Regions from separate parts of the Homo sapiens genome. Here all the other regions are linked to region 1. Evidence: fine-mapped expression QTL. A gene starts in region 1. Each other region holds a variant in brackets. All regions are shown on one strand. Distances are between the middles of the regions.

The links. PIP is the estimated chance that this variant, and not a neighbour inherited with it, causes the effect.
Region 2: its variant is the best candidate, but not a certain one, in a credible set for the expression of MYO9A in whole blood (INTERVAL, PIP 0.86).
Region 3: its variant is the best candidate, but not a certain one, in a credible set for the expression of MYO9A in fibroblasts (GTEx, PIP 0.51).

Annotation. Positions count from the first base shown.
Region 1 is chr15:72,116,659-72,119,422 of GRCh38, forward strand. MYO9A (myosin IXA) reads right to left here and starts at 1,492. Exons shown (of 42, transcript NM_006901.4): 1 at 1,022-1,492. It overlaps SENP8 (SUMO peptidase family member, NEDD8 specific), which reads left to right and starts at 1,745. Exons shown (of 2, transcript NM_145204.4): 1 at 1,745-1,806. RefSeq lists an enhancer at 434-643 and a silencer at 844-1,613.
Region 2 is chr15:72,149,831-72,152,594 of GRCh38, forward strand. No RefSeq gene overlaps it. Among named protein-coding and RNA genes, the nearest start is that of SENP8, 33 kb to the left of the region's middle. The variant C/T (reference allele first, on the strand shown) is at 1,479.
Region 3 is chr15:72,095,294-72,098,057 of GRCh38, forward strand. The region is part of intron 1 of MYO9A (myosin IXA); the gene reads right to left. Among named protein-coding and RNA genes, the nearest start is that of MYO9A, 21 kb to the right of the region's middle. The variant G/C (reference allele first, on the strand shown) is at 1,750.

The DNA.
Region 1 (2,764 bases):
AATAAAAATAAGAAACAGTTCTAGTATCTGCAGCAATCGACAAGGAGGTGAAGTAATACTACAAGACGACATAGTTATATCCACTAGTGCAACGTGATTTAATCCTTACAGAGGTCCCTAAAACATCAGTGCTGGACAACCTCACACGTTCTACACAGAACAGACAAGACGAGGTGCAGGCTCTGTGACCTTATAATGGCACACACACAACTGGCCTCATGCTTCCATAACTTCACTCTGCCTCCCACTTTTTTCAGCCCAACCCCTCCAAACATGGGTCTCGGTCGGTCCCCTTAAGCCACAATGGAGGGAATACATTAGGCTAAGCAAATATTCCCTCAGGATTTCATGGCAAAGCCCTTTCAACCAAAGAAAGGATCGCGACTAAGGAGAAAGATAACAAGGTTTGCTTGAGGAGAGGTCTGTTGAGAGAGGCTACAGTCGGTGGTGGGAGAGAAGCCAAAGTCTGTGACGGTGTCTAGAGGGACTGACACCACATCTACCGGGAGTAAGAACACCATGACAGCGGCTATCTGAAAGCCGTGATGGCTAGGGTTAGTGCTAGTCGGCTTGGTGATGAGCGAGCTGGGAGGGGTTCTACTAAGAAGAGTAGGGCGAGGGGCACATGGGGGACGCAATGGGTTAGGGGGCGGTCGAGACTTTGCCTGAGAACTGTAATCACGTCAGCCCAAGGGAGGATGTAACGTAGTCTAGAAGCTCCATTAAGAGTCCTAAGGGACTCTGAGGGGTACTAATGGGGTCTGCTGGGTTGGGGGGACCGTGACAGAATCTCCGGGGAGGCTGGAGGGCCGGAATGGTGCCCGGCCAATGGAAGATACAGGGGGTGGGGTCTACTGGGGATCCGGGGCCGTGATCTGGTGTTTGGGAGGCTCGGCGCAGACCCGCTCGCGGGGCGTCTCCGCTGGGACGGGGCGGGGCGGCCCGACCGGAGCCAAATAGCGAGGCTGAGACGTGGGCCAGGACGGGCTGCAGGGCCGCTGGGCGCTTGGGCGGGTCTTACCTCGGGCTCCGCCGCGGTGGCCACCGCAGCCCCCTCCTCTTCGACGGAAGCTGCCTTCCACCCTCCGCCCCAGGGTAGGACCGGAGATGGCAGAAGAGGCCGAGGCCACCGAGGGTCGGACGGTTCCGGGAGGGTGGGCCCAGCAGCCTCAGGGTCCGGGCGAGCGGCCGCGGCGCATCCCCCGCCCTGTCAGAGAGACTCCGCCCGGCCTGAGCAGGCACATCCCCCGCCGCACCCCGCCCAGAGAGCACGCGTTGGACCGCCGCCTCAACCGCTGCCAGCGGCCGCCTCTGCCGGTGCAACTACTGCCTCCGCCGCCGCCTCTCGCAGTCCGGGCTGTCCTGTACTCTCTCAACAGACACAGCCAACCGCCGCCGCGTCCCTTATCCGCTTCGGTCGCGCGCCCCCGACCCCGCGCACGCGGCCCCGCCCCGCGCGACTCCCCGGCTGCAGGCGAGCAGGCGCGCGCGCACTTACCTCCCACGCCCCCTACTGCCAGCACGGGTCGGCCCCGCCCTGTCCCGCCCCCGCACGTGACGCCACTGGAGAGTACAGCGTGCGCTTGCGCAGACACGCCCCCTTTCCTACGCCCCAGGCGGCCCCGCCCAAATTTTTTCTTCTTCACCTTACGGCAGAGCAGGGAACTCAGCTTTAGATTCTCCCTGTACTGGAAAGGGATGTCGCAAGGTTGGGGACGAAACCTCTGAGTTTGCGACCGTAGCTGTCGCTTTCCGGCCAACACAGAGGTGCCTGAAGGCTGGTTGGGGTGGTGAGGCCCGAGGCAGGTAAGAAGCCTCCTCCCCACTTCGGTTTGTCTCGGCAGTGGATCGCTCTCCCACCCACTCAGATTCTGGCGTATCCGTGCTCCCTCCCGATTCTGGACCTGGATTCTCAGCGCCGCCGGTCATAGCCCCCGCCCCTTTTCAAACACGCACGCTCTCTCCACCCACTGCCCCCTCCATTGTCCCCGCCCCGACCTCCGTTTCCATTCATTTCTCAGACTTTTCACTGAGTGGTTTCCATGCCTTGGGTTCCAGAATGTCAGAGGCGAATTAAGTGGTGTCAGCTTTTTGAAGTGCTTTTGTATAGGAGACCGTGAGAGAATCCGCAGTGGTAGTACAATAAAGTGACAATAGAGAAAAATGCACGGGATGCTGTCTGCGCACAGAAGAGGGGTCCCAGGTTGTGTAGGAGGATAACGTGAGGAAGCCCTTTCCAGGGTGACTTTTGGGTCACTTTTAGAGGACTGTGTTAAAAGACTAGTAATCCAGTACCTGGTCAAAGAAATACGAAAGGAGGTAAAAGCAGAATAACGGGCGCAAGAGCATGTGACAGTGGTGGTCTGAAAGAGAAAAAAGAAGTAAAATAAACCTGATGGAAACCGTACTAGTGTAGACTTCCCTTTAAAGAAGCATCGTTATAAAGTTAGAGAAATGAGGAACGAGAATATGGCCCTCAGGAATGTTTTCTGTTTAGGTAGAAGACTCAAAAGCGTACCATGAAACCGAGAAGTGGCCTCTTCGAGGGTGAGGGAGGCTAATTTATAAGATCAAGATCACTAGTGGAACGCAACCTTGTATGTGCATTTGAATCACCTGGGAAACTTTTTGTTAAATAAAACCAATACTGTTGCCCCACTCTAGACCAATTAAATTCTGGGTTGTGCCAGGTGTCATTACTGTTTTAAAGCTCCACAGGTGACTCTAATGCTAAAGATTGAGACTCACTAAACTAGAGAGAAGG
Region 2 (2,764 bases), 33 kb after region 1:
TCGCACCACTGCACTCCAGCCTGGGCAACAGAGTGAGACTCCATCTCAAAAAAATAAATAAATAAAATAAAGAAATAATTAGCTTCCAGGACACCAGACTCTTCTGGTTTTCCTCCTTCCTCATCAGGCATCCTTAGTTTCCTTTTCCTAGTTCTTCCTTTTCTTCCTGATCTTTTATTAACAGTGTGTGACAGGGTTCACTCGTCCACTCTTTCTTCTGTCTACAGACTCAGTCCCTTGATGATCTCATCCAGCAGCATGCTTTTAAATACCATCCATATGTTGACAGCTCCCAGATTTATTTTTTTATTTTATTTTATTTATTTATTTTTATTTTATTTATTTATTTATTTATTTTTGAGACGGAGTCTTACTCTGTCACCAGGCTGGAGTGCAGTGGCATGATCTCAGCTCACTGCAACCACTGCCTCATGGGTTCGAGTGATTCTCCTGCCTCAGCCTCCCAAGTAGCTGAGACTACAGTCGCATGCCACCACGCCCAGCTAATTTTTGTATTTTTAGTAGACACGGGGTTTCACCATGTTGGCCAGGATGGCCTTGATCTCTTGACCTCATGATCTGCCTGCCTCGGCCTCCCAAAGTGCTGGGATTACAGGTGTGCGCCACCATGCCCAGCCAACAGCTCCCAGTTTTGTTTTGTTTTTTTTGAAATGGAGTCTTGCTCTGTTGCCCAGGCTAGAGTGCAATGGTGCAGTCTAGGCTCACTGCAACCTCCACCTCTCGGGTTCAAGCGATTCTCCTGCCTCAGCCTCCCAAGTAGCTGGGACTGCAGGCATGTGCCACCATGCCCAGCTAATTTTTTGTATTTTTAGTAGAGATGGGTTTTCACCATGTTAGCCAGGATGGTCTCGATCTCCTGACCTCATGATCTGCCCGCCTCGGCCTCCCAAAGTGCTGGGATTACAGGCATGAGCCACCATGTCCAGCCAACAGCTCCCAAATTTATATCTCCCAGACTTCAGACATCTCTCCTGAACCCCAGACTCATATACCCTATTGCCCACTTGACATCCCCACCACTTGGATGTCCAAAATTCATCTCAGACTGAATATGTCCAGTACTACATTTCTGATTCTCCTTCCAAAAGCTTTACCACTCATGGCTTTCTCCACCTCCATTCTTTCAAGCCAAAAAACATGAAGTCATCCTTATGACTCCTTTTCTGTTATACCCCATATCCAATTTAACAGGCAGTCCTGTCGTTTGTACGTTCAGAATATATCCAGAATCTGCATGTTTCCACCATCTCTACTACTGCCCTAGTCATCAGAGTCATTGTCCTCCCTAACTTGTAAGGGAGGCTGTCTCCTAACTGATCTCCCTGCTTCCACCTTTCCCTCCCTAGCAGTCAAGTTTGATTCTTTTGAAATCTGAATAACAAAAGATTATTATTCACTTATCTACTCATTTCATTGGGAGTCAAAGCCAAAGTTCTTATAATGGTCTTAGATGATTT[C/T]CCAGCCCTCCCCCTTTGACTTCATCTAGTTCTGCCCCTTCTTCTTCTCTCTCTTCCAGCTACACCTGCATCCTTGCTGTTCCTGAACAAGCCAGCCAGGCACCCTCCCTTCCACTTTAGACTTGTTGCATTGGCTATTCACTCTACCTGGAATGTTCCACAAACCTTATTCTCTCATTTCTTTTTTTTTAAGACAGAGTCTCACTCTGTCGCCCAGACTGGAGTGCAGTGATGCAATCTCCACTCACCGCAAACTCTACCTCCCAGGCTCAAGCAATTCTCCTGCCTCATTCTCCCAAGTAGCTGGGATTACAGGAGTGTGCCACTACCGCCCAGCTAATTTTTGTATTTTTAGTAGAGACGGGGTTTCTACTCTTGACTTCAAACGATCCACCCGCCTCGGCCTCCCAAAGTGCTGGGATTACAGACATGTGCCACCGTGCCCAGCCCTACTGTCTCATTTCTTATAAGTCTACTTAAATATCAACTTCTCTGTTGGACCTTCCCTGATAATCATCTAATGTGATGCCCTATAAGCATTTCCAATCTCCCTTTTCTTGTTCTATATTTGTTCTTTTTTCTTTATCTCTTATCACCTTCTAACATACTATATTTATTTATTTATTTATTTATTTATTTATTTATTTATTTATTTATTTTATTTTATTTATTTTGAGACAGAGTCTCACTCTGTCACCTAGGCTGGAGTGCAGTGGCACCATCTCAGCTTACTGCAACCTCCACCACCCGGGTTCAAGCGATTCTCCTGCCTCAGCCTCCTGAGTAGCTGGGATTACAGGTGCCCGCCACCACGCCCAGCTAATTTTTGTGTTTTTAGTAGACACAGGGTTTCACCATGTTGGTCAGGTTGGTCTGAACTCCTGACCTCAGGTGATCCACCCACCTTGGCCTCCCAAAGTGCTGGGATTATAGGCATAAGCCACCATACCCAGCCTATAATTTATTATCTTAGTTGCTTATTGTCTCTCTCCCCTCATCACTAAAATATATAGACTTCACGAAGGCAGAGACCTGTATTTGCTTTGTTCACTAATATATTCCAAGCTCTTAACACAGTGCCTAGCCCATTGTAGACACTCAATGATAATTATTTTGATGAAAAAATAAATGAAAATCTGGCCTGGAAAATCTGTAATCCCAGCCCTTTGGGAGGCCAGGATGGTCGGATCACTTGAGATCAGGAGTCCGAAACCAGTCTGGCCAACATGGTAAAACTCCATCTCTACTAAAAATACAAAAATTAGCCAGGCATGGTGGTGAGCATC
Region 3 (2,764 bases), 21 kb before region 1:
GAGAAAGTTTTAGTGGTCTGGAAAGAAGATCAAATTAGCCACAACATTCCCTTATGCCAAAGCCTAATCTGGAGCAAGTCTCTACCTCTCTTCACTTCTATGAAGGCTGAGAGAGGTGAGAAAGTTATAGAAGAAAAGTTGGACACTAGCAGTGTTGATGCATGAGATTTAAGGAAAGAAGCCGCCTCCACAACATAAAAGTGCAAGGTAAAGCAGCAAGTGGTGGCATAGTAGCTGGAGCAAGTTATCCAGAAGATCCAGCTAAGATAATTGATGAAGGTGGCTACACTAAACAACAGATTTTTAATGTGACAAAACGGCCTTGTGTTGGAAAAATATGTCATCTAGGACTTTCATAATTAGAAGTGAATGCCTGGCTTCAAAGCCTCAAAGAACAGGCTGCCTCTCCTGCTAGGGGCTAAGGCAGCTAATGACTAAGCTGAAACCAATGCTCATTGACCATTCTGAAAATCCTAGGGCTCTTGAGAATTAACGCTAAATCAAGGCCAGATGTGGTGGCTCACGCCTGTAATCCCAGCACTTTGGGAGGCTGAGGCAAGCGGATCATCTGAGGTCAGGAGTTCAAGACCAGCCTGGCCAACATGGTGAAACCTCGTCTTTATAAAAAATACAAAAATTAAGGTGGGTAGATCACCTGAGGTCAAGAGTTTGAGACCAACCTGGCCAACTTGGAAAAACCCCATCTCTACTAAAAATATTAGCTGGGCATGGTGGTGGGAGCCTGTAATCCCAGCTACTTGAGAGGCTAAGGCAGGAGAATCATTTGAACCCAGGAGGCAGAGGTTGCAGTGAGCCAAGATCACGCCACTATACTCTCCAGCCTGAGTGACAGAGCGAGACTGTCTCAAAAAAAAAAAAAAAAGAAAAAAAAAAATTAGCTGGGCATGGTGGTGCAGGCCTGTAGTCCCAGATACTCAGGAGGTTGAGGTGGGAGAATCACCTGAACCCAGGAGGCAGAGGCTGTAGTTAGTTGAGATCACACCACCGCACTCCGGCCTGGGCAACAGTGAGATCCTGTCTCAGGGAACAACAACAACAAAATTACACTAAATCTACTTTGCCTTTGCTCTCTAAATGGAAAAACAAAGCCTGAATGACAACACATCTGTTGACAGTAAGGTTTACTGAATGTTTTAAGCCCACCGTTGAGACCTACTGCTCAGAAAAATAAGATTCCTTCAAAATACTACTGCTTATTGACAATGCACCTAGTTACCCAAGGGCTCTGTTAAAGATGTACAAGGAGATTAATGTTTTCCCACCTGCTAACACAACATCCACTCTGCAGCCCATGGATCAAGGAGTAATTTTAACTTTCAAGTCTTATTATTTAAAATATTTCATGAGGCTTTAGCTGCCATAGACAGTGATTCCCCTTATGGATCTGGGCAAGGTAAACGTAAAACCTTCTGTAAAGAATTCACCTTTCTGGGTGCCATTAAGAACATTCATGACTCGTGGGAAGAGGTCAACATAACATTAACAGGAGTTTGGAAGAGGTTGTTCCCAAGCCTCATGGATGACTTTGATGGCTTCAAGACTTCAGTGGAAGAAGGAATTGCAGATGTGGTGGAAACAAAGATAATTAGAATTTAAAATGGAGCCTAAAGATATGACTGAACTGCAGCAATCTCACAATAAAACATGAACAGATGATAAGCTGCTTCTTACTGATGACCAAAGAAAGTGGTTTCTTGAGATAGAATCTACTCCTTGAGAAGATGCTGA[G/C]AACACTGTTGAAATGACAACGAAGTATGTATAATATTACATCAACATAGTTGATAAAGCAGCTGCAGGGTTTGAGAAGACTGACTCCAATTTTGAAAAAAGTTATATTGTGCATAAAATGCTATCAAATGGCACTGCATGCTACAGACAAATCTTTCATTAAAGGAACAGTCCACTGATGCAGCATACGTCATTGTCTTATTTCAAGAAATTGCCACATCCACTCCAACTTTCAGCATCCACTATCCTGATTAGTCTGCAGCCACCACCATGAAGTAAAGAACCTCCACCAGCAAAAAGATTACAATTCAATGAAGGCTCAGATGACCGATGACCGTTAGCATTTTTTTAATATTTTCTAATCAATGTGTGGATATTTTTGTAGACATGGTGCTATTATACACTTTAAATAGACTATAGTACAGTATAAACATAAGTCTTATACGCAATGGGAAAACAAAAGTTTCATGTGACTTGCTCTACTGCAATATTCACTTTATTACAATATTTGCTTTATTGCAGTGGTCTGAAACTGAACTTAAATATATCAGAAGTATGCCTGTATATAAACTGGAGATCCAGAAAAAGAAAGACTGAGATGGTGAAACAAAAATATTTAAAAACTGGGAGGCCAAGGTGGGCGGATCATGAGGTCAAGAGATCAAGACCATCCTGGCCAACATGGTGTAACCCCATGTCTCTACTAAAAATACAAAAATGAGCTGGGCATGGTGGCGTGCGCCTGTAGTCTCAGCTACTCAGGAGGCTGAGGCAGGAGAATCGCTTGAACCCAGGAGACAGAGGTTGCGGTGAGCCGAGATCACACCACTTCACTCCAGCCTGGTGACAGAGCGAGACTCCATCTCAAAAATAAATAAATAAAATAAAAATTTTTTTAAAAAAAAGAAGAAACAGAAAAAGAAAGACCACTGAAACTATAAGATCATTTCCTCTGAAAACAATTAACTAGAAATCAGTATAAAAAAGATGAGTGGGCATAACAAATGTATTTTTC